2 separate regions of the Homo sapiens genome follow, and region 2 is linked to region 1. The links come from fine-mapping of genetic effects on gene expression. A gene starts in region 1. The other region holds a variant in brackets. All regions are shown on one strand. Distances are from middle to middle. Region 1 holds the start of POPDC1-AS1 (POPDC1 antisense RNA 1). Region 2 overlaps POPDC1 (popeye domain cAMP effector 1).

What was found.
Region 2: its variant is fine-mapped to the expression of POPDC1-AS1 in testis (GTEx, PIP above 0.99).

Annotation. Positions count from the first base shown.
Region 1 is chr6:105,131,532-105,143,412 of GRCh38, reverse strand. It overlaps POPDC1-AS1 (POPDC1 antisense RNA 1), which reads right to left and starts at 5,726. Exons shown (of 4, transcript NR_037157.1): 1 at 5,490-5,726. It overlaps POPDC1 (popeye domain cAMP effector 1), which reads left to right and starts at 6,256. Exons shown (of 8, transcript NM_001199563.2): 1 at 6,256-6,444; 2 at 9,825-10,061. The coding sequence starts at 9,836. RefSeq lists silencers at 6,218-6,327, 6,338-6,457.
Region 2 is chr6:105,093,906-105,105,786 of GRCh38, reverse strand. It overlaps POPDC1 (popeye domain cAMP effector 1), which reads left to right. Exons shown (of 8, transcript NM_001199563.2): 8 at 4,574-8,965. The coding sequence ends at 4,698. Among named protein-coding and RNA genes, the nearest start is that of POPDC1, 37 kb to the left of the region's middle. The variant G/A (reference allele first, on the strand shown) is at 5,415.

The DNA of each region.
Region 1 (11,881 bases):
AGAAACAAAAGCCTTCCAAATCAGATAGGAAGAAGTAAAATTGTATATTTGCAGAAGACATGATCTTATATATAAAAACCCTGTATACTCCACCAAAAATTATTAGAACTAATAAGCACATTCAGTAAAATTAAAGGATATAATATCAACATGTGAAAACCAGTTGTATTTCTGTATATGAATAACAACCTACCTGAAATGAAGTAGCAATCTCATTGACAACAGCATCAAAACAATAAAATATTTAGCAATTCATTTAACCAAGAACATGAAAGACCTATACACTAAAAGTATAAAACATTGATGAAATAAATTGAGGAAGACACAAATAAATGAAAATATGTCCTACGTTCGTGGTTCGGAAGGATTAATATTGTTAAAATGTCTATACTACCAAGAGTAATCTATAAACTCAATGCATTTTCTATCAAAATTCCAATGGCATTTTTCACAAAAATAGAAAAAAAATCCTAAAATTCGCATGGAACTACAAAAGGCCCCAAATAGGCCAGGCGCTGTGGCTCACGCCTGTAATCCCTTCCAGCACTTTGGGAGGCCGAGGTGGGTGGATCACTTGCGGTCAGGAGTTCGAGACCAGCCTGGCCAACGTGGAGAAACCGCGTCTCTACTAAAAATACAAAACCTAGCCAGGCATGGTGGTGGGCACCTGTAATACCAGCTACTTGGGAGGCTAGGGCAGGAGAATCACTTCAACCCTGGAGGCAGAGTTTGCAGTGAGCGGAGACTGTGCCACTGCACTCCAGCCTAGCCAACACAGTGAGACTCCATCTCAAAAGAAACAAACAAACAAACAAACAAACAAAAACCCCAAATAGCCAAAGCAATCTTGAGAAAGAAGAACAAAGCTAGGGGCATCACATTTCCTGATTTCAAGCTGTATTACAAACCTGCAGTAATCAGAACAATGGTACCAGCATAAAATCACACGTCTAGACCAATGAAACAGAATAGCCCAGAAATGAGTCCATGTGTTTATGATCAAGTAATTTTTGATGACAGCACCAAAAATATACAATGGGGGAAAGATAGTATCTTTAATAAATTGTTTTGGGAAGACTGATTATTGGACCCTTATCTTATACCATTCACAAAAATTAACTCTGAATGGATTAAAGACTTAAATGAAACCATAAAACCACTAGAAGAAAATGTAAGAAAAAGTATTCTTGACATTGGTCTTGGCCATGACTTTTTGGATATGATACCAAAAGCAAAAACAAACAAGTGGGATTCCATCAAACTTAAAGGCTTCTGCACAGCAAAGGAAACAATCAACAAAATGAAAAGGCAACTTATGGAATGGGAGAAAATATTTGAAAACCATATCTCTGATAAGGGGTTAATATCCAAAATATGTAAGAAACTCATATAACTCAACAGCAATAAATAAATAAATAATAGGTAAAGGACCTCAATAGACATTTTTCCAAAGACATACAAATGGCTAACAGACACACGAAAAGGTGTTCACCATTACTATCATCAAGGAAATGCAAATCAAAACTACAATGAGATAATCACCTCACACCTGTTAGAATGGCTACTATCAAAAAGACAAGAGGTAACAAGTATTGGCCAGAATATGAAGAAAAAGGAGCCCCTGTGCATTGTTGGTGGGAGTGTACACTGGTATAGCCATTACGGAAAACAGTATGGAGGTTCCCTGAAAAATTAAAAATATAATTACCATATGATCCAGCAAGCCCAATTCTAGGTATATATTGAAGGAAATAAAATCAGTATCTCAAAGAGATGTCTGCACTCCCATGTTCATTGCAGCAATATTAACAACAGCTAAGACAGGGAAACAATGTAAGTGTCCACTGAGGAAGGAATGGATAAAGAAAATATGGCATATGTACACAGTGAAATATTATCCAGCCATAAAAGAAGGAAATTCTTTCATTTGTAACATGAATAAAAATGCAGGGCTTACACTAAGTGAAATAAGTCAGAAAGAGATAGACAAATGTTGTATGACCTCACTTATGCATGGAATCTAAAAAAGTTGAACTCACAGAAACAGAGAATACAGTTACCCGGGGCTGAAGGGTGGGAAAACCGGGGAGGTGGTCAAAGGGTACAAACTTCCAGTTATAAGATGAATAAGCTCTGGGGATCCAATGAATGGAGTAGTGACTCCAGTTAGCTATACTTTATTTTATAACTGAATTTGCTAAGAGAGTAGATCTTACATGTTCTCACTACACACATAAAAATGGTAACTATCTGAGGTGATGGATGTGTCAACTAATTTGATTGTGGTAATCATTTCACAATATATACATACATCACATTAAAAAAAGAAAAGGCATGGAAGAAACTTAATGCATACTGCTTAGTGAAAGAAGCCAATCTGAAAAGGCAATACATTATATAATGCCAACAATAGGATATTTTGGAAAAGGCAAAACTATGAAGACAGTAAAAAGATCAGTGGTTGCCAGGGGTGTGGGAGGAGGATAGACAGAGGGATGAAGAACTGCAGCACAGTATATTGAGATTGTTCTGTATGATACTGTAATGGTGGATACATGACATTATACATTTGGCAAAACCTGCAGAATCTACAACATGAAGAGTGAACTGTAAAGTAAACTACAGACCTTTGTTAATAATGATGGATCAGTTTGAGTTCTCCCTTTGTGACACACATACCACACTAATGCAAGGTGTTAATCATGAGGGAAACTATCTGCTCAGTCATCTGTAAACTTGAACTGCTCTTTAAAAAAGTCCATTAATTTTTTAAAAATCAAAAGAAATGTAAAAACAATCAGTGAGGATGGTTGTCAAACTGGTCAGTGAAAAAGTTAATGCAACAATTAGTGAGAGGAATGTGGGTTCAGAAACCAGTCGTGACCAGAACTGTCTGCTATGAGAATGTATCAGAAACTGCTATAGTCTCCATGCAATTAGTAATAACAGTTGAAATAAAGTCTACACTGATGTATACCATGGGCAGATTTGTAGATAAGGAATATAACGCTACTTACTGTTATGTGAGTACTTGTTTTTTTGTTTTTTGTTTAAGACAGAGTCTCACTCTATTGCCCAGGCTGGAGTGCAGTGGTGTGATCTCGGCTGATCGCAACCTCTGCCTCCCGGGTTCAAGCAATTCCTGTCCCTTAGCCTCCAGAGTAGCTGTATTACAGGCATGTACCACCACACCGGGCTAATTTTTGTATTTTTAGTAGAAATGGGGTTTCACCATGTTGGCTAGAACTCCTGACCTTAGGTGATCCGCCCACTTCAGCCTCCCAATATATGTGTACTTTTAAAACAAGTGACTCCCTCAGATCTTGTTTTATTTTCACAAAACTTATTCTATCTGAACTTTGAAGTCTCATTAAGGTTTTATCCAACTGGTAAAAGTAGACTAGGATGCCTATAGAGAAATAAAGGTAAAAATAATTATGTCAATCTAACACTAGCCAGAGTTTTTACAGAGGAGACAGACTGCCTTGTATTTTGTTATTCATGCTTCTTACCCTTTTCATTCTACACGTATGTGCAAATTAGCTCCTTGCTTCATATTAACTTTCAAAATAGCGCTCGGAAGCTTTCAATCTGACCTTTCTGTGGCCAGCAGGAGGAGACCAGGGAGCTTAAGGCATTCCCATATCCTGGGCTATGTGTTTAGAATTCTTGCTTTGAATTTTATAAAGCTACTATTCATACATCTGGGATAAGAAATTAAAATACAGTAAGATACTCATTATAAATAACGGTTTCAATCCTAGATGGGTTATAGTGAGGGGATTAGGTTTTTTCCAGTCTTCACTTCCTATAGAACACAGACTCAAAGAAAACACAGACTCTGTGAAAGGCTAGAACTCAAATCTTATGATAACTAATTCAGTGCTCTTTTCATAAAAATGTGCAATCTTTATAAGATCTACATGCCTTACAGGTATCCTATCCTGAAGGTAAGGAGTGGGTGTGTAATAGGTGACAATATATCTAAGTTACTTATAACACTGCCTGACACAAAGTATACTCTATGTGAGGCATCAGTAAGCTTCTTCTGTAGAGCCAGAGAGTAAACATTTTAGGCTTTGTGGGCCATAAGGTTTCTCTTGTAACTAATCAAAGCCGCACTGGCAGCATGAAAGCAGCCATAAAAATGAACGTGACTGGGTTCCAATAAAACTTTATGGACACTGAATTTGAATTTTATATAATGTTCACATATCATGAAATATTCTTCTTCTGATTTTTTCCAACCATAAAAAATGTAAAAATGGGTATACAAAAACAGGCAGTGGGCTGGGGTTTTGGGGGCATAGCTTGCTTTATATAATTAGTAGACATTATTATGATGTCTATAATATCTTTCTAGAAATTATTTTTAATGGTTGTTTAAACATAGAGTCTGTTTCTATGTTTTTTATTTTTAATGGCTGTTTAAACTGGTAGGAGAGGGGGGATTCAAACCCAGCTTGTGTGACATCAAGGCCCATGCTCTTTCATAAACAAGACTGTCTGGATGTTCTATAATTTACTTAGTCCCCTGTGGTTAGAATTTAGGCTATTTCCAATATTCATTATTATAACTCACCCTCCAGTGAACATCTGTGTAGTTAAGTCTTTACGCACACATGTATACCCACACCTTAAAATGTATTTAGTGGTAGCTATCAAAACAGCTGGTAGGGACGTGGGCACACCTGTAATCCCAGCTACTGGGGAGGCTGAGGCAGAAGAATCGCTTGAACCCGGGGGGCGGAGGTTGCAGTGCGCCCAGATCGCGCCATTGCACTCCAGCTTGGGCAACAAGAGTGAAACTCTGCCTCAAAAAAAAAAGGCTGGCAGAGCATCTAGAAAGAAACAGACTCTAAAGAAGTAATCTCAAAAAGTAATCTTTTATGGTTATAGGAAAGTTCAGACGTATTAGAAAAGGAGTTTTATAAATACAATATATATACATAGAACTTATGTCCCAAACACCATTTTAAGACCCTTATATATAATTACACCATTTAGTCCTCAAAACTATACTATGAAGTGCAGGTACAATTATCATAATTATCATCATCATCATCATCATCATCATCATTATCCCCATGTTCCAAAAAGGAAACTGAGGCACAGAAGGGCTAGGTAACTTCTCCAAGGTCACACAGTAAACTGGTAGGAGAGGGAGTATTCAAACCCGGCTTGTGTGACATCAAGGCCCATGCTCTTTCTTACTAGGCTGCACCATCTCTTCAACCAGAGACTTGTCCAGTGTGCACCTCCAGGTACTCTTTATAATGTACCTTCACACAATCGGTGGTGGTATTTTTTATATTGAGATCACATTTCACATGCATGAACGATCTCATAATCTAATAACTGATGCCAATTTTAACCAATAATGGGACACTTTTGGTGGAAACTGGGTACCCATCTAACCTTCCTCTATTGTCCTACAAGACAACTCCCAACAACGCCAATTCTTTATTAAGTTTCCTTGCTTTTCTTACCCAAAATAGTTGTCCAGTGAACAGTAAAAGTTGATCGGAGCATACTCTCATGTCTTATTTTCCAACGTATGGCCCAAATCTACATTCAGGTAGTGCTTTGCCTACGATGGAGGGCCTTGTACCGCCTGGGATTGCTAGTTTCGGTTAAGTACCCCTGTTTGAAAACAAAAACAGTGGCGCGTGTCAGAAGTCCCTCCCGCGCGGCCTCTTCCCCCTCTTCCTCCGCAGCAGGAGGCCTGACCCCCGCGTCCTGCACCCGTGTGGACCAAACGTTCAGCCTCCCCCGCCACAATCGGACGGGAACTCGCGCGCTTTCCGGGCTATTCCCTGTTTGTGCTGAGTTATGGGCGAATCTCCCAAAAAGGAGATATACGAGTGGGTCGTCCAACTTTGAGGGGAAACGAGGATTCTCTTTCTCATTTTCTCTCCTGATTTCTCTCCCTACCCGGACCGCACTTCTCGAATTATCCCCGTAAGGAGGAACGACGAATGCCGCCGGTCCCACGAGACTGCCGCCCCCCACTCATGCCCAAACAAGGATAGAATCTTGTAGCGAGGCGACAAGAAAATAAATAAGCGGGCGTTTCAAACCGAGTCCTCGGGTGTGCAGACCCGCAGCGGAGTCGCGGGAGCGAGGTGGGAAATCCTGGCCGCGGCGCCGGGCTCCGCCCGCCGGGGGGCGCGGGGCGGCGGGCGCATGCGCGTGCGCGGTGCGGCCCCAGCCCTGGCTGCCGCCGCCTGCCGCCGCCGTCGCGATGCCTATTTTAGTCAAAGCGGCTGCGGGCTTGGGGACCCGGCCCGGGCAGCGGAGCTTCCGGACCCGCCGACCCGCCGAGGAGCGCGCGTCGGGCTCCCGTCGAGCAGCTGAGCCCGTGTGCCCCGCGTCCCGCGCCCCGAAGCTGCCGCTCCGAACTTTGGTCGGCGCTGCCCAGGCTCCCCGCCAGGGACCAGCCGGGTAAGGATGGGAGGCGCAGCTGCAGCCGGCTTTCCCCCCGCGCCGGGTTGTGTGCGGCCTCGCGCTCCCCTGGCTAAATCGGGAAGCGAAAGTTGGATCTCAGCCCCTCGGGGAGCAACTTTGTCGGCCCTGGCGGCAGCTGCTTGTTCTACGCGCCCGGGCAGCCGGGGGCGCCGCCCTCTGTCCCTCCTCGCTGGCCGCGCCCTCGAGGGGCTCCCGGCCCTTGGAGGCCGCCCTTCTCCCCGGGTCTGGGCGCTGCGGCCACAGAGACCCTCAACGGTCAGCGGCCGCCGCTCAGGTCAGGCAGCCCCAGCGTCCCCGGGCCCTCGGCCCCACCGAGTGCCGGCTCCCGCGCTCTGCGGCGGCAAGCCCCTTGGTGAGCTCCGTCTCTGCTCTCTCCGCCGAGTCTCCGGGGTTCCTCCTCGCCCCCTGTAGGGCCGCCTCGAGCCGCGCAGAGCCTGCGTGCAGCCGGGCGCGCGGTGTCGCCCACTCCGTCCCCGCTCGGAGAGTAGGGTGGGCCACGGCGCTCACTCCTCACCCCCGCGTCCCGAGAGCGCCTGGCCGAGGAGGACCGTTGCCACGGACCCTCCTCCTTTAAGGAGCGAGGTCAGAGGGCCCCGGGAGAGCGCCGATGGCTGGGGACCCGAGGTCCGCGCCACCCACCCGCAACCTCCTTCCCCGAGCCTTTGGGAACGGGTTGTTGGCCAGACAAGTCCCAGAAACTGCCTGCTTTGAAGCATGAATAAGTGCGAAAAGACTCTTAGCAATGTAATGCCATTTGCCATTCGGGAGATGTGCGAAGATTCAGTTAGAATTACAGAATGAATTAACTCGACTAGCAAGACGCTCGTTTGCAGTTATCTTTTTCATTTTTTTAGTTTGGTAGAGGTTTAATGTTAGTTTCAGCATTTAGCTATTTAGCCCTACAATCACCTATTTGAAAAACGATAAACAAAACTTTACTAGTATAGGTAATTTAAGGACTTCAACTTTGATGATCTGATGAGGGAAAAATAATTTCTCTTGATTTAGTCAAAATTAATCTGAAAAGTTTACCAATTTAGCAGTCTAACCTTTCTCTTTCCACCTATTCTCTGTATAAGAATTGTTAAGTGTAAGCCACTTAACGATTAAGTGGTAATCAAAGTAAACTGATCTGATCAATATTTTCGACAATAGGTAACTGGCATTTCACAATAGACAATTATATAGATATATAGATACATATATCTATATATATCTCTCTCTCTCTTTAATAAGGTGTCGTGCGTCAAAACATGTTTAGGATGACCGTACCTTCTAAAAACTGCTAATAATATTTTCTGGTTCTTGGGTCATAATAGTAGTTTTCCTGTCATTTTTCTTGGACCAGAAATTGGTACTTTTAGTGTCACTTTAAGAACTTGTAAAAGCCTGATATTGAATTATAGTGGATTAATAGGCAATACAGGTGAAATTGGGTGAACTCGAGGGGCAACATGTATTGATTGATTGATTATGTAAATGTGTATTATAGAACCATAGGCTATTAAAGTTTTCCCTATTCCAAGGAAGAAACAGACCCGAGGAGCAGAAGTGGCTTTCCCTGGCTTATGTAGCACCCTGGTGGCTTGTGGTGTAGAACCTCACTCAACCTCAGGAAGGCTAGGCACTCCTCTGGCTTTATTACTGAGATCTGGGGAGACGGAACAGTGATTTCTGAAAGTGTTTATCAGGTTGACGTTCCTTCAGAGTGGCTTTCATCCCTGTCTCAGTGGCCTTCTCTACAGAGGCTAGGCCTTGGAAGTACATAGATGAATAAACATTGTCCCTGCCTCCTAGAGGACAAACAGGACAATGGGAGTGTAGGTACATTCTACAGTGCTGTCGAAATGATAGTTATTATTAACCTATGTAATGCTAGGGTAGGTGATGTTGGGTTATGAGTGATAGAGGATACCTCATATCATTCTCTGTCCTGCAGAAGTTACGAGATTCATTCTCGTTTGGCCTTGAAAAGCAAATTTTGTATAAATGGAGTTATTAAAATAATGATCTTCCCCCCCGCCATCCTGATAGGCTTATATATTTGCTGATTTCAGACATTTGGAAAATAGGTGAATTTTTGTTTCTTTCCTTTTTGTAGCAAATCAATATCTAAGTCAACTATTACTATTAATATTTATGAGCTATTTCAGAATTATGTAAAAAGATCTTCAGTTGACTTGATCATTTCATTCACAATTTGTAAATTGGTGTGCTTGTTTTTTATCATCTTTAAGCTGTGGAATTCTTTCACATTTGTCTGTTAACATCCTTTCAAAATACCCATTTTGTACCAATTAATTATTCTACTACCTAAAACCTTTAGTATGTTAAGAACAAGCAGTAGAAGAGTAAGATTAATTGCATGACCTTATTTTGAAAGAAATACATATTTCTAAATTTAAATGTATTTAGGGTCCCCATTTGGAATTTTGCTGAAACAGAATAATTCATATAATCTGTAAACCTACATAGTGTTTGGCAAGGACCAAATTTGTGCAATTAATAATAGAGTGTTTTTTAAGGACCGGAGACCGAAGACAGGTAACATAGGAAATGGTTTTATATAAGCATGTGTAAAATGTATATTCTTTAAATGTACTTGCTATGGATTTTCATATGTATAAGTAAACTGGAAGTTTACTACTTTTAAATTTGTGATATGCTACCAGGTAGAATTATTATGGGAAATAAAGTAGAGATTTAAATAAGACAATAAAAGTTTCATGTTGTATCTCTCTGTGTATATATAAATGTTTATATGGCTATATATTATTTGCATATATGATAATGTATTATGTATGTATGATACAGTGATTTAATGGTGGTATAAAAATAGAGCCTTCTAAATATCCTAAGCCTTCAAATAGATGTGAGGGTATTCATATTTTTTAAGTATTCAAATAATTAGTTTTCTAGTTATTTTTCCTGTGTTTGGATTCAGTCACCAGTGGGAATTTGATGGAAGACTAGACTAAATAACTTTGTAATTACCATGGTTTATGAACATTGGTGATTATCTTAAAGACTAATTCCCTCACTCCTCCCTTCCCTACAAGTGTTTATACGTATATATGTGCCTATGAGGGAATAGTTTTGCACTATGCTAAGTATTTTATGTATTTCATTTCATTTGATCATAAGGCAAATGAGGTATTATTACCATCTTTTAACAGGTAAGGAACTGAATACATTTAATATGTGACAGAGTTGGATTTGAATCTGGGTCTGTCTAATTCATAAGCACTAGAGAAGTCTATTTAATTCACAGAAATAATTTTGGTATAATACCTATGAAGGTAAAAAGATACAATTGCCATTTTTACGATTTTACTTTTGTTTACTTGTTTTTACAGGAATTTTCAAAATGAATTATACAGAGTCCAGCCCATTGAGAGAATCAACTGCCATAGGTTTTACACCTGAGTTAGAAAGTATCATACCTGTGCCTTCCAATAAGACCACTTGTGAAAACTGGAGAGAGATACATCATCTGGTTTTTCATGTAGCAAATATTTGTTTTGCAGTTGGGTTGGTTATTCCAACTACTCTTCACCTTCATATGATATTTCTTAGGGGAATGTTAACTCTAGGTAAGATACCTAACTGATACTTTATGTAACTTTTCTGTAACTGACATAAGATGGGCTTTACATTGAGAGCTTCAGAGTATTCTTTGTCAGGCCCATAGCAAGCCAAAAAATGTAAGTCTTTGTTAATGAATTAGCAGTATATCAATTAGCTTAGAGCATAGGCCTTCACATGCCATATCTCTCCCTTACTTACTTTGTTTATATGTGCTTTCATATGTTGTTTAGGTTTTCCAGATACCAGAACATTCATTCATGTGTAAGAGTATGAACTTTAAAGCCAAATTGTGTGATTCAAATCCTGGTTCTATTTCTTGTCAACTGTAACTTGGGCAAGTGATTTAATCTTTCTACTGCCTCAGTTTCCTCATGTATCAGATAAGGGTAAAAATAATACCACCTCCCAAAGTTGTTGTGAATTAAATGTGTGTCATATATATATTTAACTTGGAATATTGCCTGCCCATAGTAAGTACTGTATAGTTTTAACTATTATTACTTGAAAAGATATTTGCTGTGGGCAGTAAAGAAACATTGGGAACAAAAACAATTACCAGATACAGTAGTTCAAATAAAACAAATTTTTTTTGGTCCCAGTAACCCTGATGAAGCAAGTTAAATTGATTCACATCAGAACATTAAAACAATTGAATCTGTTATATTAGCCAGTGATTCTTGACAAATTATTCTCTATGTGATTATTTCCCTGATGGCCCATTTATTCAGGTGCATTTTTTAGCACCTGTGATGTGTCCAGACAAAGACTGAGGAAGGCCGTCTTCATCCTTGAGAAAGACACTCTTGTGGGGGCTGGTGGAGAAACAGATGGGCAATCCCAGTATGGCGTATCAGATGCTGGGATGCAGGTGTGCACCCATTATCCAGGGGGACACGGAGAAGGTGATAGGCTTAGTAGGAAGGCAGAGCAGGGTCCCGCTGAGGAGGTGACATGGGACCTGGATTTTGGAAGATGAGCAGGATTTATCTGAGTAAATGGGTATAGTATCCAAACAAAGAGCACAGAAGAGAAGGAAATTGAGCATATTGGGGTGAACGTAGAGTAGTGCATTGTGCTTAAAAATATAAATGGGCTGGACACAGTGGCTTACGCCTGTAATCCCAGCACTGTGGTAGGCCGAGGTGGGTGGATTACCTGAGGTCAGGAGTTCGAGACCAGCTTGGCCAACATGGTGAAACCTTGTGTCTACTAAAAGTACAAAAATTAGCCAGGCATGGTGGCAGGCACTTGTAATCCCAACTACTCGGGAGGCTGAGGCAGGAGAATTGCTTGAACCCCGGAGACAGAGGTTGCAGTGAGCCAAGATTGTGCCACTGCACTCCAACCTGGCGACAGAGCTAGACTCTGCCTCAAAAAAAAAAAAAAAAAAGTGATAAATGACAAGGAAAAAGAGGCTGGAAGGTTAGTAGAAGCTTGTGGGACCTCTGTGGCTGTGTGACCTGTGAGTAAGGTGAGGATTACAGCAGTAGGAACAGGGAGTTGAATGGAAAAAAAAATACCGTACCCTATAAAAAAGCAAACATCAATTATGAATTTTAAGACAGAGTTTTGGAGGTGGAATGAACCAAAGATATTATCAAATCTAACACTTTATTCTGTAAATGCAGAAAGAGAAATCTAGGCCAGGCATAGTGGCTAACGCCTGTAGTCCTAGCACTTTGAGAGGCTGAAGTGAGAGTATCTCTTGAAGCCAGGAGTTCAAAACCAGCCTGGGCAATGTAGTGAGACCTTCTGTCTACAAAACATTTAAAAATTATCTAGGCATGGTGGCATGCATCTGTGGTCCCAGCTATTTGGGAGACTG
Region 2 (11,881 bases), 38 kb after region 1:
TGGGCCTCTGGGCAAATTTCTGATATCTATCAGTACGTAAAATTAATGAAAAACCAGGCAAACCTGTAGAAGTTATTTATTAATGTTCAACTTGTGAAATGCAAGAGCATTCCCTTGAAATATAATATTCCCTCTTTTTCTTGTTCTTACTACAAATTGGTTTTGGATGTATTAGGGGTTCAAAGAAATAATTTCCAGCTATATAGGGATGGACTCTGAATCTTTCCATTGAACCAGTAAGTCTCCTGATGAGGCCAGAGAGCCCCATGTCTAGGGGCCAGGTGAGCCCCTCACTCCTCAAAGCTGGGCTTTCTGGTGGCCATGACAGTTGCAGATTCCGAGGCAGGGCAGGTGATCCTTTTGTCTTCCTGGATGTGAATGTTATACTTGGCCCTCAATGGTACAGAAGGCCAGGCTAACTGGGGCTGGTACAAAGAGTGGACACTCTCCGTGATTCTAATTCCAAGCGAGGGGTTGGCAGCCAGCTGGCACCAGGTAGTCCCTGGAAGTGACAGGTTGGGCTGTGCTCCTGTCTGCCAGTGTGTCTACCAAGGTGGAAAAAGAGCAACAAGGCAATGTTGTTATAAGGACAGGGAGTTGGGGGGGGATTGCAGATTCTCAGCCACAAAGCTTGAAATGAAAGTGAATCAAGAACTTTTGCAGAAAAATTCCATCTTTCCAGGCCCTTAGGACTCCCTGGTTTATCCTCCTAGGATGTGTTCTAAGTGGTTCACACCCTGGTAAGAAATAAGCTCATTCATGGCAGCCACCCCTCTCTGTTTTCTTTCACGGATGTCTTTGTTTTAGCTTCTGAATATACAGTAGAAATAATAGTACAGATGTGGTGAGGGTGAATTGCTCTGAAAAGTGCTTTGAGTTTCTGAGAAATAAAATAAGACAGCATGAAAGACTGGGTGTGATTCCTTTTTATTTCCCCAACATTTAACCCATTGTCCTAGCACCTTGTGGTCACTCCCTGATTCCTTTTACTGATTGGATGAAAACATTGTAGCAGGTGATGGTGCTATTAAGCCTATTGATATTCCTTTGAGAGAACGGTGTTCTTGTCCATGCCCTAAGCAGTGTCGAATCAATTCTACAAAAGTGATTTCCTTCAGGGGACATGCTACAAAGTAGAGTGATGACAGTCCCTTTTCCTAATGAGGTTTACTGGACCCTGAGGCCTGCCTGCGCTTGAGGAATGCTGGTGGTGCCCCACTGGGAGACCCGCCAGAAATTAAAGGTGATGTCCATGTCTTTTTCCCTCATCCTCAGGATCCTTTCTGAGGTTCCCTATGTGGCCTTTCAGAGGAGGGATTTTTTCATCACTGTGTACTTAAGGACATTATCAAGGTCCTGACTATGTGTGGAGTAATTCTGTGAGGCTGCAGGAGGAAAGAGGCCTTGGTTACAGCACTCAAGATGCCTGTTTTCTAATAAGGAAGAGATGCAAATGCTATAACCACAATGTTACACAGAATGTGGAAGGGCTGAAGTTATTGAGATGAAGAGGGTAGAATCTTCCCACAGGAGTCATGGAGGGTTACACATGAAGGAGGTGGAGTTTGAATCCTGCTTGAGGAAACAATGGGAATTTGGTGGTTAGAGATGGGAGTGGAGGAACCATTCCAAGTAGAGGGAAAAAAGGCAAGAGGAAAAGAGGAGGATGGGCTGGATTTGAAGAGCAGTGAGTTTGCAAGAGCTTGGACTGGAAGAGGGAGGGAGACCCAACTTGGAGAACCCTGGATGTCACCCTAAGGATTGTGAATCACTCTCATTATCCTTTTAATGTTATATAGTAAGTTCCATAGCTCTTCTTCTGCCCCAGCAAATATGGTGGGAGCAGAATAAATTCTTTCACAGAAAAGCTGAAAGCTCTTGGGAAGTTCTCACTTAACCATTTCCATTTGTGTTGAGTCCTCCCTTCATTTTCTCTCAGTGAAAAAAAATGCAAAGTATAGGTGAGAGAGTTGGGAGGGTCAGATACCATTGTGGCTCCAGAGTATAGATACCTGCCTCAATATAACTGTAGGATGTCCTTCCTGGTATGATAGATGAGCTTAAAAACTAGAAACCAGTTAGTCCTACTTCCTCAGACAGAATAAACTGGGTATGTTTCTGTTAAGCGTGTTACACAATTATGTCTATATACTATATATTATTGACTTGATTTAATGCTCTTAGACATGCCATCTTATTGTTTGTTCTGAGAGTTTTGTCTCATTGTAGATACTCAGCCTAAGTTAATATTTATGAGACCCAATGATAACTTAAGGCTAAAAATATGATGGAAACCAGGGCTTTTTTTTTTTTTTTTAAAGACAATTTTGCCACACTCAAGAGAGCTAAGATTGAGAAACACAAACCCACATTTGAGCACAAGGCCCATTTCCTTTATTGGCCATTCTTATGAGCAATGATGAATTTTAACAAATTTTCTCATTATTAAGTCCATAGCCTTCCAAAGACCATAGTAATTGATTTTTATGTTCTTACAAATATTTACAAAGTGGTTATTACATCCCAGGCACTGATCTAATAACTTTACAAATATCAAGTTGTTTTATCCTTATAACAACCATATGAAATAGGTGCTGTTCTTATTATTCCTATTTTACAGGTAAGGAAATTAAGGCACAAAGAAGTAACTTGTCCAAGGTCGCACAGATAGAATTCATTGCCATTTGAATAGACATTGAAGTAGAGGTTGTGTTTCGTGTGTTTGATGTCACCTGCATGGGAAAGGGGAAGAACTCGCCTGAGAACTTCCCATGCTGTGCCCTGTGCAGAATTGGGTTCTTGGACCATTTTATTAGATGCTTCTTTTCTACAGTTTATGTCAATAGTTGTCATTCAAGAGACTCAGTATTTTTGCTGTAAATGTCTGTAAGTGAACAATTTCCGTATATATACAGCGAGTATACATTAGCTGTACCACAGTCTAGCCCTGCATATTTTTTTATGTTAGAGGATGTGACTGGTGGTAGCATTTCCCCAGATGTACGGCAGTGACTGTACAGTTAATAAGAAATGACATTTAGTCACATGTTCTATAGGCCCAACACCCTGCTAAGTACATCCTATGCATTATTCTGTTTAATCCTCCTAACAATCCCATGGAGCAGATCCTAAGAATATCCCCTTTTTATAGATATGGAAACAGAGGCCTAGAAAGGTATAGTAATTGAGTGCAGGTTGCAGAGTAGGGATTTGAACTCTGGAACTGTTTGCTGAGCCTCTGGTCTTGACCACTCTGCATGCTCCCTCCCCCTGTGCCATACCAGGGGCCAGGAATGACCACTCGTTCATGGCTGAGTGCCAGGGCAAAGCCTTTGCCGCTGTCTCAGCCTCCCTCCAGGAGCAGCCGTGTGACATGCTCATAGCCCTTGGCCCTCCTTGCTGGTTGTGGCATTCTCCCTGTGCTGGCCAACCCAGCTGTCTGCTCCTGACTCCTGCCAGTGAATGACAGCTGATCTTGACAAACTTCTGTGGTCATCTTGTAGCAGATCTGCTTCATGTCTTAATAGATCCTCCACTCGCTTTTGCTGTGAGCATGTATTTAAAGAGCCAGGTTTCACCCGGTATCCCTCCACCATCAACCTTCTCCCCAGCTGAGTTCAGCATTTGTGGGCTGCCGGAATGCCACTCCACCCTGTGATTGGGTAGCGAAGATATGGGTGTGGGCAGAGCAGGTGGAAACCCGGACAACATGGATCCTGACAGTGATGGTGGTGACTGTAAGGAGGGGAGTTTATGCAGTCACGTTAGCTGCTCATTAGGCACCTTGAGAGGCCTTTTGATAATGACTTCTACTCTTACTTTTAGATAGTATTTTCTTCTACATCAAGCATGGTATCCATTATATGGTAGATGCTTGATAACCATTTGGTGAATGCATGAACCAGTGAGTGACTGAATGAATGAATTGCTGCCTGGTTCCTTTGATTAAATGGCATCCTAAAAGGCCCTGGGGTTGCCTTTTCTCCTGCTGCTGCCTGGGATTGCGTTTCCTCTACTTGGCTTGTCCCTCCTGAATGCCTGGCCTTTCTTCCTCTTCCCCTGTCTCCTTTGCGTGTAAGCCCAGTGGGTGGCTGGACTCCATGGTGGAGGCAAGAAATGTTTTAGGTGATATTACAGATGGTGATTAGGTTCCATAATTTTGGAATAGAAGTATTCTTTGGGGAAATTAGGAGTTAAATCAACTTTCAAGGGCTAATATGAGACTCAAGCCCCCATGTATGATATTAATGTAGGAACATGCGTTCTGAGTCCTAAGCAGACTGTGGGGCAAACCCCTGGGAACTGAATATATTTGAGAAGCTCAGATCATCCAAGCACATGCGGTGGAATCTGTCCCTCATCTGTGCTCCTGACTGAGAGTCTCTTCTTGACTTGGTTATTTTATTGAGATGCTGGATTGAAATAGAATGGTTTATGGAAATTGTGTTCTTGGTGCTGCTAGTGATAGATTCCTACAGTTTTATTTTCCAGTTGGAATTTATAATTGATATATCACACCAGGGTCTGGGTAGATTGTGCATTCAGTGGTTTTCCCTCCTGTATCTTTCCACAGATGTGTCATCCCCACACCAGCGAGCCTCTGCCAAGATGAAACCGATAGAAGAAGGAGCAGAAGATGATGATGACGTTTTTGAACCGGCATCTCCAAATACATTGAAAGTCCATCAGCTGCCTTGATCAGAGAGAGAATTCAGGTTACCAAGACGGAAGGTGTCTTGAAGAGATCCTGAAAAATACCAGCACTTTTTCATGGCTTTTAGGTTATTCTGCTTTAGTGCATCCAGACTGGTGGAGTCGGAGGGAGGAAGTGAGGAAGGGTCAAGGATGGAAGAGTTCTTTCACTTACCCTTTTTATTAGTCAGCTTTTAAAGTAATTGTTTTACTGAGCCTTCTGACTATGCCTTGTTCTCTTTTGAGATATATATTTTCACAGTCTTTTCTAGATATATTATTGTTTTAACTTAACAAATCTTAGCAATCTCTCAATGCCTTTTCACTTATTTTTTTCCAAGTTATGATTCTTTTTCCTCACAGTCTTTTTTGTTCCATAGCAATGAGGTTGTCCATTTGATAATTTTAACAAACAATGTAAGTTTAAAATTGAGGCTAAGGTAACATGAAAAAGCAGGGAATCTCAAACTTTATTCCATATATACACACACACACACACACACACACACACACATACATACATACATATATATATATATATACATATATATACATACACACATACATATAATTTTTTTTTTTTTTGAGATGGAGTTTCACTCTGTCGCCCAGGCTGGAGTGTAGTGGCACATTCTCAGCTCACTGCAAACTCCACCTCCTGGATTCACGCCACTCTCCTGCCTCAGCCTCCCGAGTAGCTGGGACTACAGGCACCTGCCACC[G/A]CGCCCAGCTAATTTTTTTGTATTTTTAGTAGAGATGGGGTTTCACTGTGTTAGCCAGGATGGTCTCGATCTCCTGACCTCGTGATCCGCCCACCTTGGCCTCCCAGAGTGCTGGGATTACAGGCGTGAGCCACCGCGCCCGGCCTATTCCATATTTTTTTAATGGGACATTTTAGAGAAAGGTGTGATTTGACTGGTTTTATTTTTCTCCCAGGCCAGAAGTATTACTCCACTAGATCACCTTACTTAATTGGGCACTGTGTGGATAACTTGATAATGAACAAAACTCTCAGATTTTACTCACATTACCCTTGTATTATGCCATTTATAAACTGCTCTGAAACCTGAAGCTGGAAAGATAACAGATGGGTTTCTGAGCACGGGGTTAACCTCCAGCTAAACTCAACTTCCTTGGGATTTGGAGTCACCATGTTGTGCACACTCTGGTGTGGGAAACACTTTATGTAGGGTGGGAGGACAGGGGAGTTAAATGGCTGGGCAGGTGCCACAGGATGAGGCCACTGAAAGATCTGCTTCATTCTTTGATCTGTATTCTGAAGTTCCAGATTGTTCATCTAGAGGCAGAGACATCTCTTTTAAAAAAGTGCCAGATGCCCCAGTGCCAGAGCTGCGAACGTGAACACAGTGGAAGGCAGAGGGTTTACTACAGGCCAGGCCATGGACACCCCACCCAGGTACTGCAGTGAGGGCCTTGATTCCAGAGCTCTTTTTCCTACTGAAATCATGGTTTAGTAAACAGTGGCATTTGGCTGGTGGGAAATGCGTAACTGGTCAGTGTGTCTGGCCAGCGTGGCTGTGGCACTTGGCCAGGACGCTCCGTTGAATGAAGCTCATTGATTGGCCATGCTGGTCATGTCTATTTTGCTTCATCCACTAGAACCAACTTTGAGTCAGTCTCCTGTTACGTTAAATGGCTAAGAAAAGTTCCAAATGAAGTTGTTCTCAGGTGAACTGAGCCAAAAGAAGCAACTCTTACCATGAGGTGATTTCTGTTAGAGGAGACATATAAATAAGCTCATCTAGGGTCACCTCATTTTCCTAAATATGTTTTTAAAGCAATTATTGTAGTAATTTCATTTGAGTTAAATTTACATGCTCGGTCACTCATTGAGAAAATTTACACAGACTCTGAATCCAGTTCCTGTCATCTTCAGATGTTGGTTTATTGACATCACAGTAAAAAGGCTACTGTCGACTGGACACAGTGGCTCACACATGTAATCACAGCACTTTGGGGGGCCAAGGTGGGTGGATTGCTTAAGCCCAGGAGTTCAAGACCAGCCTGGGCAACATGGCTAAACCCCATCTCTACAAAAAAAATTAGCTGGGTGTGGTGGTACATACCTGTAGTCCCAGCTACTCAGAAGGCTGAGGTGGGAGGTTCACTTGAACCTGGGAGGTTGAGGTTGCAGTGAGCACAGATCACACCACTGCACTCCAGCCTGGGCAACAGAGTGAGACCCTATTTCAAAAAAAGGCTGCTTTCACTGTACTGCTGCAGCAGTCTCTTCAGGTAGCTAAATTAGGAGCTTGTTTTGGAGAAATGAAGCAAAGGTGAATGACAGCCTAGGCTTGAAATTATAAAGCTCTCTCAGGTTGAACTCTCTCGTGCGCTCTCGCTCTCACTTTCGCCCTGTACCTGAGAGCACAGGTGTAACTGTGATGTCATAGTGCCGAGACTACTTTCCTTTAACCATTGGGGTTAAGTTGGGCAGCCCATTTAGTTTACACGCGCATAAGACTAATTTACAAAATCACTCTATACAGTCATTAGATGTAACATCCTTCCCTGAGTAGAAAGTAATGCATGTGTTTGGAGATTATTTTCTGTAATGCTGGGAACAAACCTGTTTTAAAAGCACACTGCTAAAAGTAGGTGATATAAGACCATTTGCTGTTTTTATTAAAGTATGTGTGTGTATCAGTGTCTCAATGTGAAGATTGTAACCTCAAGATTAGGAATCTTAAAAGAGCCACTTAGCCTGAATGGGAAACGTGAGACTATTTTTAAACACACACCTCTAAGGAAGAAGCCTCCCATATAGACTTGATCTCAAAGAAGCAGATAAGAAGACAGAAAAGTGTTTTAAGTGTAAGATCTCCTATGGAGTACTTTAAATTCATTTATACAAATGAATAAGTGTATCTTTGTATAATGCATAAATACATAGATAAAAACATGTTTGCTGCCAAAGTTCCCAATAAGATGCTTCCTGTGTTTTTTGGCCTTTACTTAGCTGAATGATCAAAGTTCAGAAAATGGTCTGCAAAAGTTACTCCATATACAACCCCAAATCTACTACTTTAAATGTAACATCAACTCAGTTGTATGAATCTGGAGTGTAATATTTATATTAGAATGTATATGTCATTTAAAATATTTTGAAAGCCCTCATAAATATTTATATTTACTAAACTAATAGCATAGACACTATATAAATCCGCAGTGATGCTTATATATCTTAAATTAGTAATAATGGGTGCTATATAATTATTTTCAGTTACTATCCCTGACACTCTGGAATCTTCTCCATTTCTCCCTATCACTCAATTTCATTTTAATCATTGGACACCTTTGCGTTTTGCTGCTAACAGTGTGTGTATGTCACCCTCTTTATATCTGGTTTTCCCACTTGTCTGAAGCTCTCCTGATCTTAGAACCTGGAGCTGCAGATTCCTCCATGTCAGCTCCCATCACGGCCCCAAAGACAGAGTCACTTGGTTGCTGAGTCACTTGGTTGCTGGAAAAATCTTTGGGGAAAGCTGGTATAAGCTACACACTGACCTGTCCCCAGTGTTTCCAGGTAATGACTTGGCACTCCAGAGAAAGTTTCATGCTGTTGCGTGTGGTGGCTCCAAGCCAAGCACCTGGCATGCAGGTCAGCCCTTCCCAGCGGGCGTGGCGTCGTCCTCTTCACAGATGCCACGTTGCAGCCCCAAGGCCTCACCATTTTGCGTTTTTTAGAAACCCATTTTCTTGGTCATTTATAAAGCTGCTTTATAGATATCTTTGATCCTGGCATGCCTTGGTTTCCTCTCCCTTCCCTCTTTCCAATCCTGGTTTCCTAACCTCCTCTTGTAGTAATTCTCAACTCAACTCAAAGTCCCAAGAATTTGGAATGGTAGGATGCTGTGCGGGGAGCTCGAGGCTGAGGCATAATCACTGCTTCGGTTCTGCTCATCAGGGGACACGCTCCCTTACTCATGGCAGCCATGTTTGATTGTCACAGAGCCCCCCGAATACTCTGTCTATAGTGACACACTGTAGGTGTCATAAATTTTAAGAAACCTGCTTTTAAGTACTATTTATAGGTTTTTCTGTTATACTTGCAACCTAGTTTTAAAATACATGAGGATTTTATGAAAGCTTTATACAGACATTTATAGGAAACTCATTCTTTGATTTTAGGTGCCATTTAAATTGATAACACTTACTTTATAAAAAGATGCTTTTTGTCTGGATAGAGCCTTATAGTTTAAAATATCTTCATATATTGCCATTTGATCAAATAAATTTCTTACTTAGAAAATGTGTGTATTTTTTATTTCATTCCTCTTACATATATCTAGCTTGTTCGAATGTCATGCCCAAAGGCCAAGGTTGTGGGGATGGGCCTGGTGCAGGCCATTGTATTCTGAGCAGACCAGCAGGGGCGGTGCTTGTGGGTCGGTCATACCTGACTTCAAAGGTCCTGCCATCTTGGCTGCTTTGACTGTGAAAAAAAAAAATGGCCAGAAGGCAGTGTAGACAGTGTTGACTAGATGCAGCAATGGAGAAGCCTTCAGAGTTTTATTGATGGGACTTAGTGGGCTTCAGCTTTTTTTCTATTGCATCTGAACATTCACTCCCTTCTAGTTTCCTAAGATTCAACAATATGAGGAGTCACATGAAGGAGTCAGAAAACCTCCCTGGATCTGTTCTGTGGTGGATGAGGGGGACAGTCTTTCTATTCTTTGAGAAACCCACGTTTTCTCCCATCAGCTGTCCTAGATATTGGAATGGAAACTTGACAGCCCATCTTTTGGCCTTGAGTGGCAAGTCCTTGGCATCTAACACACCCACCCTAGTCAGCCTCAATGATAGGCCCAAATGGAAGGAGCATCTTATACCATGAGAGGAATTAATTCTGTCACTCAACAGGCCATGGCATCTAGGCCTGATGTCTGGGTTTCCAGCCCTGAACTTCGTGCTGAGCCAGCTTTTGGTCAGCTTCCCCTTACCTAAGGCTGTGCTGTAAGAGCTGGGAGTTTCCAGTGATGTCCACTTGGGGGTTTTCTGTAGACAGACATGGCTACAGCCCACCAGAAGATAAAGCTGACAGGACTTGGCTATTTGTGGGAGCAGAACTGGTGGTGAGTGAGAGGAGCATGTCGGAGATTTCTGGCTTATGTTACTGCTGGTGATTCTCTGGCCAGGAACATCGCAGAGCGCCAGGTTTGAATGCAAAGCCTGAGTATGTTTTCTTCATGCTAAGTTCTAGGGGCCTTGAGAATAATGAAAAGATGTCAAGCAAGCAATTGGATAAGTCAGCCTGGAACTCAGTGAAGGGATCTGGGCTGAAGATACAGATTTCCAAGTTGGAGACGTCACTGTGAGTTCACCAGCTTCCTAATACATAAAGATTTTTCTAGTTAAGGTTTTTTCTTTTCCTCATCCCTCGCCCCCCCATGAATGAATGAATAATAATAAATGAGTGAATTTTTGATCTTTTATTTCGAAATGTGTTAACATTTGAAAGATCCGCATAAGTGAGCCAGTATTTTTTAAATGGTCAACACATGATGTTGTAAAGTCACACACATGGATATAAGATCTATTCCAAGCACAAGCTAGACCAGTGCAGCAGCACAAAACTGCCATTAACAGGGTTTTGGACTCCACACTGCAAACAACCTTTAAGAAAGATTGTTCCTTTTCCACTCCCACTGCTTCACTTGACTAACCTTAAAAAAAAGAAAAACGAAACTATTATAGAGTTTTCTGTAGTATCAAGAATAGCCACAGTTGGCCCAGCATGGTGGCTCACACCTGTAATCCCAACACTTTGGGGAGCCTAAGGTGGGTGGATCACTTAAGGCCAGGAATTCAAGACCAGGCAGGGCAACATGACAAAACCCCACCTCTACTAAAAGTACAAAAATTAGCCAGGTGTGGTGGCATGCGCCTGTAATCCCAGCTACTCAAGAGAATCTGTGGAACTCAGGAGACGGAAGCTGCAGTGAGCAGAGATCATGCCACTGCACTCCAGCCTGGGTGACAGAGCAAGACTCTGTCTCAAAAAAAAAAAAAAAAAATCCACAATTATCTCAAGATTATTAAAGTACTTAACTCTGTACTCCTCCCTTTTCCAAAATTTGTGTGAGGCTAGATTTTCTTCATATACTTCAACCAAAACGATATATGTTACAATCTACTGAATGCAGAGCAGATGTGAAAATCCAGCTCTTGTATTTAGCCACACCTCTAGAATTGCAAAAGCATAAAACAATGCCACTCTACACTTTTTTGTTTTATAAAATAGTAATTTTATAAATTTTATAAATAGAAAAACGTTCTTCATGTTAACATGTAATAAGTTATTATTTTTAAGCAGAATGATGAATTTCATCATTCTCTAAGTGCCTCTGTTTCTAGCCCCTGTGGCTCTCCCCTGGTTCCTGCAATAGAACCCCACCTTGTTTCTCCACCTCTGGCCTCACTTTTTCCAGTCGACCTTTGTGCTGCTATCAGAATAATCTGAAAATTTGCCAACAGAATTGAAAACCTTCTGATGGAGCTTCCTTTCCTGCAGAGAAAAGGCCGCACTCTCTGCACGGCCACCAAGGCCCTTCCCATACCCAGTCACCCGCACCCAGCCAAGACAGTGACTTCTCCATCCCCTGAACTCATCACACGTGAGCCCACCTCTGCCCAAAATGCCCGCACTTCTCCATCCAGCGGTACCCCCAGGGTAAACTCCCACACCTCTGTGGATCTGCTCTTCCCTCCTTTGCTGCCCTCTGTGGCCAAGAATTTATGCACACAATATGGCTGGTTGTATGGCAGCCAAGGCAGGGACGTTTGCTTAGGTCTCAATGTCTCTTCAGATCATCGTTGAATCTAGCAATGCTCTTTCACTTATCTATTTGAACCGTCAACAGTACTGTCAATGTGGGAGGGCAGGCCCTGTGTCCCCTTTTTAGAAGGGAGAGAAGGTGGGTACAGAGACGGTAAGTGACTGACCCAAGGTCACATTGTCGGCAGGTCCCAAACACATGTGGTCTGTTCACTTTCCTAGTTCTGCCTTACAACCCTGGTTAATTTTTTTTTTTTTTTTAGAGACAGGTTCTTGCTCTGTTGCCCAGGCTGGAGTGCAGTGGCACGATCACAGCTCATTGCAGCTTTGAACTTCTGGATTCAAGTGATCCTCCCAGATCAGCTTCTCCAATAGCTGGGACCACAAGGG